3 linked regions of the Homo sapiens genome follow. The protein of the gene in region 2 purifies or fractionates together with the protein of the main gene of each other region. This does not show direct contact. Each region holds a gene or a part of one and is shown on either strand. Other genes may lie near its edges. The genes, in order: NFIB, PAX8 and MKRN2.

Region 1 (3,655 bases), on a different chromosome or scaffold from region 2:
ATGTGTATGTTGACTTTAGCTAATGAAGCCATTCAGCATTAGGATAGTGATCTCTCTTTTGAATGATATTATCTCCATCTTAAAAGTTGATTTAGGATCAGCTTTTGGAGTGAGGAGAACAATAAGGGAGATTAAAGGTTGGCCTCTAACCCTTAGAATCTGAGGTTCTTTGGTGCTTCATTTCTAAGAGGATATCGGCATCCTCTTAAACATGATTTGCAGCTTTCAGCCTTCTTGTAGCTCCCTGGGAGAGGCGCTAACACTGATCTTTGCGTCTGATGTAAGTTCTTCCAGAGGCTCTTAAGCAGGAATATCTGACTGAGACTTGCTGTTCCCACACACTCTGTCATTAAATAATTTCCATGTGTGTTGTTTTAGTACTTTGGCCGTGTTTGTTAATCTACTTTCCTTTCTGTATCTCCCATTTAGTGTCAGAATGCATACTAAATTTTTACAGTGCTCATGCATAAATCCGTAGACAAATTATTTTATTGCTATCTTTACAAAATTAAAACATAATATGTGTACATATTTATGGAATCCATGTGATCTCTGGATCCATGCATACAGTGTATAATGATTAAATCAGGCTATTTAGGATATCTGTCATCTCAAACATTTATCATTTCTTCATGTTGGGAATGTTTCAAATCTTCTTTTTTTGCTATTTTAAAATATGTAATATATTGTTGTTAACTGTAGCCACCCTGCTGTGCTATCAAATACTGGAAATTATTCTTTCTGTCTATTATAACTGTATGTTTTTACCCATTAACCAATCTCTCTTCATCTCCTCACCTCCCCACCCTCCCCCACCTCTGACAACCCCTTCGATGAGATCAACTTTTTAAGCTCCCATGTATGAGTGAGAACATGCTATATTTGTCGTTTTTATTGCTGTCTTGACACTGCGGAATAATCTTTCTGGAACAAAATTTAGAAAAAAACAATTTCTGAAGATTTTAAAATTATCATTTACTACAAATTACATCTAGTTTATTTATGGGTAAGCAAATTATGTTAACTATGGAGCCATATGTATTCAATAGAAACTATAAATCTTTGCCTAAATATTGCATGAGCTTAATAAATTGAAAATAGTTTATGTAAGGTGGAACCTCTAAGTTTCCTGTTAATAACTCAGGTCTATGAATTGTATCCATTACTGTGATAGGAAGCCAGACAGATTGTTTACTTCACTTGAGCCCCTGAAATACTCCTTCTAGCATGTACCCCACTTCCAGTGTCATATAGAACATGGTTCTAATAATAAATTATAAAACATGCGGTTACTGTGGGATTTCTTACCTCACATTTTTTTAACCTTTGGTGTGCCTCAAGCCACAACAGACATAGCTACATTTTAGCTGTCCAAATAATTCAAGCCATCAGGCACTTAGTTACTCATTGGATACAAGTATTTTCTGTGTAAAGGATGTTACAGTGTATTATATAACATGAACAATCTATCAGAAGGCTGATAGATAATCCAGAAGTTTGGAGCTGTTACTAGTCATGTATATACTGATGTATTTAATTTTTAGTCCAGAAAGGGAGATGTTCATTGTGTATTCCGTGGTTACTTCTCTGTGATAAAGCTTGTACCTCCTAATCATACTTTCTTAAAAATATTTTAAGTTAATCTTAGCCTGCCTAATATTAAAATACAATTCAAAGGGTAGTGAACACATTTAGAATATTCATTAAAAATGAGGGGTAAGAAAACTTCCATAAAAATCTGCAATCCCTTTGGAATTTTATACTCAACTTGAGGCAGATGGGAGAGAGGAGGAGTTTAAGTAGACCACGTATGCTTAGAGTGCATCTCAGGGGCTCTAGAATTTTGTTGCAAAGCCCCAGAGTACAATTTCGTGTGAGCTTTTGAAGGGCTGATTAAGACAGGTAAAGAAATGGAAACTATTCTTAAGGAGTTCTTTGACACCAACCTGCCTGGTCTCCACTTTGCACATTATCTCTACCTATGATTTTGCTTCTGCAGCAGTCCCTGTTTAGAATGACCTCCCTCTAATCTCTTACTCATTCTCCAGAGTCCAGTGCCAGCTATGGCTTTTCGCAGACTTCTTGGACAATTCAAGCTGGTATTGGATTCTTTTTCCCTTGAAATTCTACAGCAGTTTTGGATCATGTCATTAATTTGGACAGTTTCATTTTCATCTATTTTGGTATTTATGTGTTTCGCATGAATGTTTTACTTACCCAGCTTGTTGCCCAATATTTTTATTAAGGGCAATATATGAGACTATTTTGTACACATTGCAGCCAACACCTGCCAGCAGTGGACACAGTCAGTAATTTGTTGAATGAACAAATTTTCAGCGAACAGGTTCATTTATACCTCTTCCTCTGCTTTTAACACGTTTTTGAACTGTTCATCTTTGCTAACCATTCCAGTCTACCAGGGAAGAAGTTTGGAGGAGAAAGCAAAGAAGGAAGGGAACTCACAATGGTTGAGCACGTGTTATACACTAGGCATGATTCTAGGCTCTTATCACTACCTATTTCATTTCATCCTCAAAATAATCCTATGTGTCCGGTTATTATTACTCCCATTTTACAGTTAGGAAACTAGGGCACATAACTTATAATACAGAGGGAGTTTAAACTAAAAGGCTATTTATCTCTCAAGACTCTGCTGATTCTAACACAATATGCTGCCTCACAGCTTTGTTCATGATATCTAAAATTAAATTTAAAAAATGTGAACAGATGTAATTATACAAAATATCATGAGATATTTTGATAAAGACATACAATGCATAATAATCACATCAGGGTAAATGGGGTATCCATCACCTGAAGCATTTATCCTTTGTGTTACAAACCAAAAATTATTATTCTATATTATCAACATTAATATCAACATTAATATTTGAGTGGATTAGAAGTCATGATATTAATAATTATTATCATATCCTAACTGGGAGGCTGTGAATAATGATTTTTGCTTTTTTTTGTGAAACGGTTCTCTGTTTATTTATTTAACAATGATTTGGTTTTCGAGAGCCTAGGTAGTGCAAAGCAGCTTGTTTGGTGTTGCTGAGTGATAGGACTCGTATATTCTGTTTCCTCCAAGGCATTTTTAACTAGCAGAGTGACAGATGTAATGTCAACTAATATAAAGGAGTGAGTAAAGAAGGTTGAGGAATAGGATTCGGGAAATTGGTAACCAGTGATTATAATCTGATTGCCTCAAATTTCCAAGCTTGAACGTTGCTAAGGTGAGCAAGTTTTCAGGTCCTACCCAGGTTGTATGGTGGGTATTAGAGGCTTAAGGTGAAGAAAGTTCTCTCTATCTTTGACCAGAGGCATGAAAGATTCTCGATTATTACATTTGAATAGAGGTCAGAAATACGAATGTCATTCCCAGTGCTTCTTTGTCTTATTCCTCAGCGCCCATAACCCAGGGAACTGGAGTCAACTTCCCAATTGGAGAAATCCCAAGCCAACCATACTATCATGACATGAACTCGGGGGTCAATCTTCAGAGGTCTCTGTCTTCTCCACCAAGCAGGTACTGAAAGAAGGGCTGCTCATATTCTCAAGTGATACACACATAGGTTCGTAGGTGGATGATAGGCAGATAGATAGGTAGGTAGGTAAAGAGAGATGGGAAATAATTTTTGCTGGTAGTACA
Region 2 (3,655 bases):
TCTGTCTGCTAGATTATTAAGTGACACTGTGAGAAGCTACTGAGAGCAGCATGTGGGACATGCAGAAGGGCAAGAGGCAGGAGAGATGATTCATGTCGGAGGGGCAGGGGAGGACTGACGGAGAGGGTGATGTTTGGCTGAGTCATGAAGGCTAGTGGTATTTTTCCATGCAGAGAAGTGGGAGGAAAGGCATTCTGTGTGGAGGGCACACAGTGTGCAAGGGCAGAGAGGTGTGAGCGAGGGTGGTGAGCTCGGGGCCATGAGTAATGCAAGAGCATGGGGTGTGCAGGATGAGTGGCCAAAGGTGGGGCTAGGAAATAGTGGCTGAGGTCATTATGTGAAGGCTTTGTGCTACTGCTTCAGAGTTGTGGAACGTGATGTTGCAATCTGGGAAAGACGCTGATGGCAAGGGATAGCATCATCAGGTTGTGCTGCCATCCCTGAAAGGCCCAGGCTCAAAGGTTTTGGGTGAAGGAAGCCAGGAGGGTTAGAAAGGGAGGAAGATGCCAGGGCATCTGGTAAAATAAAGCATGTGTCAGGCTTGGAGTTGCATAAGGCAGGTGCCCTGAGCCCATTGATGCAACTTCCAGCTGCTTTGATGGAGCACAGGCTCATTTGGAGAATAGACCTTCTCTGGCCCTTGCCCACCCTGTTCACCTCCCAGGGCCCAGCTTCTCACCTGCTCGCCTTTGGTGTGGCTGGGGGAGGCATAGGCCTCTGGGTAGTGCTGCCGCTCAAATGGGCACTCGAGCGGCTCGAGGTGGTGCTGGCTGAAGGCATCCGTGCGAAGGTGCTTTCGGGGTCCGCTGCTGCTGCTCTGTGAGTCAATGCTTAGTCGGCAGCTATCCTGATCACCTGGTACCCCCCGGGAAGGAAGAAAGCTTTTAGGGGACCTATCTATTCATGCTCTAGGCCAAAGTAGAGGACTGACTCCAAGCTGACTCACTGTGGAGGGAGAAAAAGGGCCAGCCACGTGGGCCCAGGAGCCTTGGCCAACTGAGGGACAGGACATGTGACAGTCACATGCAGAGCCCCTACAAAGTCCCATATCATAAGTGGAAGGGTTTCTGTCCCCATCAAAGCCTGAGCAAACTGCTCTCGTGCACCGCCCGCTGCCCTCCTGTCCCAGCACTCACTGTCATCCATTTTCCTCTTGTCGCTGCCAGGCTGAGCGATGCCCAGGAGCCCATTGATGGAGTAGGTGGAGCCCAGGGAATCCGACTGGGGTGACTCCGGGGGAGTTACAGCTGAGCTGGGGACTGCAGTGGGGGAGAGGGAGAGGGTCAGGGGTGGGAGTGACACCCCTCACAGCCCTGGGTGACTCTGGGGTAGTTACAGTTGAGCTGGGGACTGCAGGGGCTGGGGGAGAGGGAGAGGAGCAAGGGGTGGGACACCCCTTACAGCCCTGGGGTGACTCTGGGGGGACTGCGGTGGTGGGAAGAGGGAGAGGGTCAGGGAGTGAGAGTGACACCCCTCACAGTCCCTGCTGACACTGTGCAGGAGGCAGCAAGCCGAACCATGGACTGAGCCCTGGAGGGGCTCAGGTCCTTCCTCCAGGGGGCCTCCTGGTGGGAGGGATTCTTGGAGTTAGAGCTGTCTCAAGTGTTTGCACCTCTCCATAGTTCAGTGAATCTGCCCTGGGAACAGGCCAGACTTCGTCGCAGTGGCACAACTCAGTCTACACATGGGTTTGTGAATGGTACTGTGCACAGCTATGTCTGTGTGGGTGTGTCTGTGTGTGCCTCTGTGTATATGTGGGTATGCTGAAGGGGAGGTGTACACGAGCATGTGTGTGTATCCAGGTCTCTCAGCACTCACTCAGCGTGTGTCCGGGACTCAGGGACTTGGTGGCCACGCAGCTGTCCATAGGGAGGTTGAATGGTTGCTGCACTTTGGTCCGGATGATTCTGTGATGAAGAGAAGAAAGGCCATGAGAGAGAAGAGGAGGAAAGAGAACTCATGGCTGCCCCAGACCCAGTCGCCTTTTTGACACCCCTTTTGGGTATCTCCAAGGCACTTGAAACTCAACTGTCCACAGTCAAGTCTGTGACCCTACTCCGCATGCCTAGTCCTCCTCAGTTGTCCGCATTTCATGATTGGTACCATCAGTCACTCAAGGCCAAAACAGAGATGGGGCTTAACCTCTGCTTCCCTCTCTTTCCTATCAAACCCATCATCAAGTTCTGTGTTTTGACCTTGTGAACCTTGCCAACGTTGACCCCTCTCTGCGTCTCTCCATCAGCACCTTAGTGCATGTCATCACCAGTGTTCCAGGGTCACTCAGTGGCCCACGCCCATCCCCTCTTGGCCCTTTCTAAGTGATTCTCCCTACTGCAGCCAGAGTGGACTTTCTGAAATGCAAGTTGGCTTAAAATCTGCCAAGGGTTTCCCATTGCTTTATGACCAAAGGCAAGAAGATATAACACAGCCCCCAGCCTCTGAAAGGTCACCTCTGCTGACATCTTCAACTTCAGCCTACCTTGTGCTCCCCTGCTCTTTATCTACTGGTTTTCTTTTCTTTCTTTCTTTTTTTTTTTGAGATAGAGTCTTGCTCTTGTCGCCCAGGCTGGAGTCCAGTGGCGTGATCTCAGCTCACTGCAACCTCTGCCTCCCATGTTCAAGTGGTTTTCCTGCTTCAGTCTCCCAAGTAGCTAGGATTACAGGCACTCGCCACCACACCCAGTTAATTTTTGCATTTTTAGAAGAGATGGGGTTTCACCATGTTGGCCAGGTTGGTCTCGAACGCCTGATCTCAGGTGATCCACCTGCCTTGGCCTCCCAAAGTGCTGGGATTACAGGCATGAGCCACTGCACCTGGCCTATCTACTGGTTTTCTTTTGATCCTATTAGCCACAGGGCCTTTGCATAACTGTCTGAGCTCTTTTCACCTAGTTCTCTTATTGTTTTTTACTCAAGGGAAGACTTTCATGAACTTCATAAACCAAATAATCCTGTGCTACCTTGCATATCTTCATGTTCCTTTTCTTAGCAGGACTTACAGCTGCATTTTTACAATATTTTTTGTAGGTAGTTGATTAATATCTGTGTTCTCATTAGACTGTAAGCTCCGCAAAGATGGGCTTTGTGTGTCCCAGGGCCTAGCACAAAATGAATGAGTGAATTATGTGTGAATGAATTAATGAACAAGCGAGTGAGTAAGTAAATGATTGATTGAGGCAGTGAGTGAATCATTGAGGGACTAAACGAATGAATGCTTGAATGTGGGCTGGGTTAGGGGTCTGATGGCTTAGAAAAGGATCAATTCATGAAGATTCTTTTATTGAATGAAAGCAGATGTGGTGTTTGAGGAAGGAAACTGTAGATAGCACACTATGGCTGGGGGCCAGGGGGAGGGTGCCCCATAGCATGGGGCAAGGGAGGAGGCAGGGAGGTATGATATCTGCCTGGAGCCAGGTGTGCTCCCTGCCTGATTGTTCAGCATCAGGCCCCTTCCCGGCCTCTGCTCCACCCAAGCCAGGCCTTTCTTGTCTCTTTCCTGATTTCCCCAAAGCCCAGGGGCCCCAGCCTGACACCAGAGGCTGCTTTCTCTCTTACCTATTAATGGAGCTGACACTGGGCACAGTGTCATTGTCACAGACGCCCTCAGCCAGGAGCCGGTCTCGGATCTCCCAGGCAAACATGGTAGGGTTCTGGC
Region 3 (3,655 bases), on a different chromosome or scaffold from region 2:
AAGCTGAGGCATGAGAATCGCTTGAACTCAGGAGGCGGAGGCTGCAGTGAGCCGAGATCGTGCCACTGCACTCCAGCCTGGCGACAGAGTGAGACTCCGTCTCAGGAAAAAAAAAAAAAAAAAAAAAAGAACTAGACAACAGGAGGGAATGGTATGCAAGGAATGCCAGGGAGGCCCGAGAGGCCCAGACTGCTGGTGTCTCCAGAGAAAGGGTACTAGTGAACATGCTGCACATCCGCCCCAATCAGAAACCTCTGACTTCTCCACCTGTTTCTCTCCCCAAAAGCAGAGGAAGTGCTGACCAGACCTACCTGACAGTTTATTTTTTTCCCAGGGAAATTATAAAAGGATATTCTAGTATATAAGTCAGTCTCTCATGCGTTTGGCTAGTATGAGCCACCTCTATGTACACCAACAGAATCAAATTTCTGAGCCTACAAAATGAGAACTGGACCTCATGACTTAAGTGACTATACAATGGTGCCATCCTACAGCCTTTGCTAGGTAGTCAGCTAGGCTTTCCCCAGGAAACACCCTCTTGTGGCCTACCATTAGATCAGCAGTCCCCAATCTTTTTGGAGCCAGGGACCAGTTTTATGGAAGACAATTTTTCCACGGAATGGGGGGATGGGGGATGGTTTCAGGATGATTCAAGCACATTACATTTATTGTGCACTTTATTATTATAATATATAATGAAATAAGTATACAACTCACCATAGTGTAGAATCAGTGGAACACTGAGCTTGTTTTTCTGCAACTAGATGGTCCCATCTGGGGGTCATGGGAGACAGTGACAGTTCATCAGGCATTAGATTCTCATAAGAAGCACACAACGTAGATCCCTCACATGCACAGCTGACAATAGGGTTAGTGCTTCTATTAGAATCTAATGCTGCTGCTGATCTGACAGGAGGTGGAGCTCAGGTGGTAATGTGAGTGATGGGGAGTGGCTATAAACACAGATAAAGCTTTGCTCACTTGCCCACTACTCACCTCCTGCTGTGTGGCCTGGTTCCTAAAAGGCCATAGACTGGTTGGGGACCACTGCACTAGATCAGACATTGTGCAGTAATTTGCCATAAGGCTGTTAAAGTTTTATTTTTTAAAAAGAAAAAGCACAAACAGAAGCTGGGAAACTTTTTGTTAGAAACTTAGAGTTCCTGTTATTTACAATACCGATTTTATAAATGCACAGAAGAGAGTTACACAGCAGATGTGAGACTGCTATCCTTAGGAAGGTCTGCTTCCAAGGCTGCCCCTTGCCTGGCATCTGGGAACTTGGCTAGTAACAGTTCTCTACACAGATACAAAATTTTCCCTAAATGATGGAGAGTGTCTCGCTGTGTCTAAACTGATGTACAATGTAGTTCATGCTGAAAACCTGCTTGCCTTCTGGGAGTCTGGAATTTTGGTTCATGCTAGGCAGAGGGTGCCTATGTGACCAGCTTGGGCACTGAATCCCTAATGGGCTTCCCTGGACACATGTTGCTGCATTTTCATTGCTGTGTGGCCCTCTCAGGGAGGGACAGATGTAGGAAGCCTGCACCCAGGCTCCTCCAGACCCCCCATGTCTTCTGCCATCATGATCTGGCTGTGACCCCTTACTAGATATGGTAATAATCTCAGCCTTGAATACAGCTGTATACTGGGACCCACTTGTCCTAGTTCTAGACAGTCTCTGGATTTGGGGTGGTCTTGGAGATCCCAAACACAAAAGTAGAGTATACATCTAAGCAGTTTGAGAATTATTTTTGAGAAATGCTACTCAAGACTGCAATATTTCAATTGTCCTCAGACATGGTAATCTTTGAAGGTATAATAATTTAAAAAAAAAAGTCAGTGCCAAGAGCCAAGTCTGAATGACAAAGAGGTATCAGGATTAGTAAACTCATAAATACTGAAAGAGGACAGGTTCAAAGTGGCAACATAAGCAGTTAAACAAAAGTGATATCGAATAAATACTGTATAGTTTCTTTCCTTTTCTCGGGTAGAGACAGGATCTTGCTATGTTGCCCAGGCTGGTCTCAAACTCCAGGGCTCAAGTGATCTTCCTACCTCAGCCTCCCCAAGTGCTGGGATTATAGGAATGAGCCACTGCACCAGCCAATACTGTATTGTTTCTTTTGAAGCAATTAGAACAGAAAATTTCCTGAAAGAACCAGGGTGGAAGACTACCACAGGCCCTCTACCAGATACTATTTGTTAACAAGGCAGACAAGAAGAAAGACTTTTTTAGGTAGTGGTCTCCTGCAAGGATGCCTTTTATAATTCTACCTCCGCCTTCCATACGTCCTATCCAGAAAACTTGCCTTCCAAACTGCACTAATTATCTCTTCCACTAAAATACAAATATTTAACTGCCAACCAGAGCTTCTAGTTAATTTTGCCATTTATAAGCTGGTGACTTCATAAAAGCCACTTCACTTCTGTAAGTGACTGAGCTGAGATTTAAACAGATTCAAAAATAATTTCTAGACCACCATCACTGCCTTCAAGAAAGGAAAGTATGAAATGAGAGTTATGTAAGAGGTGAAGTCAGCCCAGTCCTATTTTTGTAGCATATGTCACCATTTCCACTCCCCAGTGACAAGCACAAAGCCACCTAGAGCACATCCTGCTTGTCCTTTGGGGCATCTCTGTCATGTGCTTATAGTCACTCCTCTCCATCTATGTTATACTGATCTTACTCCAAGCCTCTTTCATGTTGCGCTTTGTAATGAATTTCCAACTGCTCAACCTTTCTGATGGACAAACCGCCCCTCATATCTTCCAAGAGAGACGACTGAGACATGAACTGGAGGAGGGGAGAGACGACTAGGTGGGTGAAGTGCATAGCTGGAGACTCAGAGCAGGTAGGTTCTTTCTGGGGGACACTCCAAAGGGGTGTTACCCTGGGTAAACCCAAAAGACTGTTTCAGACAGTATGGCTATTATACACTGCAGAGCATATCAGGTTCACTGCTGGCCACAGAACCACCAGCAGCTCCAGCAGCAGCAGTGCTAAGCAAAACAATCAATCTGGTTTCTTACAGGCCCTTGAATGTTGCCTGTTTAGCAAAACGCTTTTGCAAATCACTTCCAAGTATACAGGTAATTTGCATCCTCAGTGTCTTTTTTTTTTTTTTTTTTTACATTTTCCTACATATTTTCACAGGCTAAAATTTTACGGCTATACTCCTTGTGACAGCAGATCCACTGAGGGGGAAGGAAGCAAATGGTAGGCACTGTGGCAGGCTTGCAATAAATGTACTGATTAGAGGCGGGAATGAAATGAAGTACAGTGTGGTGGTGAAGACACTGAAGTCAGACTGCTTGCTATGTGAGCTTAAGCAAGTTATTTAAGTCACTGAGCCTCAGTTTCCCCATCTGTAATGTGATTATAATAACTGCACTTACTTCATAGACTGCTATGATAGACTACTGGGACATTTAACTGAGAAAATGCATGTAAGTGCTCATCCTAATACAAAATAAATGGTTTGTTGCTATTATTTAATTTTTAAACAGCCCTGCCGGTTAGGCATTACCATCCTCATTTCACAGATGAGGCAGTTGTTGCACAGGTGGTACCAGGATTAGAATCCAGAACTGCCCAACCCTGGGGCTCAAACTCTTCCTACCACCTGCCAGCTGAAAAGATCCCCCATGTTTT

The links.
Region 1: the proteins of PAX8 (region 2) and NFIB purify together in Homo sapiens (co-immunoprecipitation; one large-scale study listed by IntAct). This does not show direct contact.
Region 3: the proteins of PAX8 (region 2) and MKRN2 purify together in Homo sapiens (affinity purification with mass spectrometry, with the first as the bait; one large-scale study listed by BioGRID). This does not show direct contact.

Annotation. Positions count from the first base shown.
Region 1 is NC_000009.12:14,150,022-14,153,676, reverse strand, and holds part of NFIB (nuclear factor 1 B-type), read left to right. Parts: intron 1-3,411; coding exon 3,412-3,532; intron 3,533-3,655.
Region 2 is NC_000002.12:113,240,872-113,244,526, forward strand, and holds part of PAX8 (paired box protein Pax-8), read right to left. Parts: coding exon 3,556-3,655; intron 1,908-3,555; coding exon 1,819-1,907; intron 1,260-1,818; coding exon 1,137-1,259; intron 856-1,136; coding exon 680-855; intron 1-679. UniProt on the Homo sapiens protein: Transcription factor for the thyroid-specific expression of the genes exclusively expressed in the thyroid cell type, maintaining the functional differentiation of such cells.
Region 3 is NC_000003.12:12,559,957-12,563,611, reverse strand, and holds part of MKRN2 (E3 ubiquitin-protein ligase makorin-2), read right to left. Parts: intron 2,856-3,655; exon of another isoform or gene 2,613-2,855; intron 1-2,612. UniProt on the Homo sapiens protein: E3 ubiquitin ligase catalyzing the covalent attachment of ubiquitin moieties onto substrate proteins.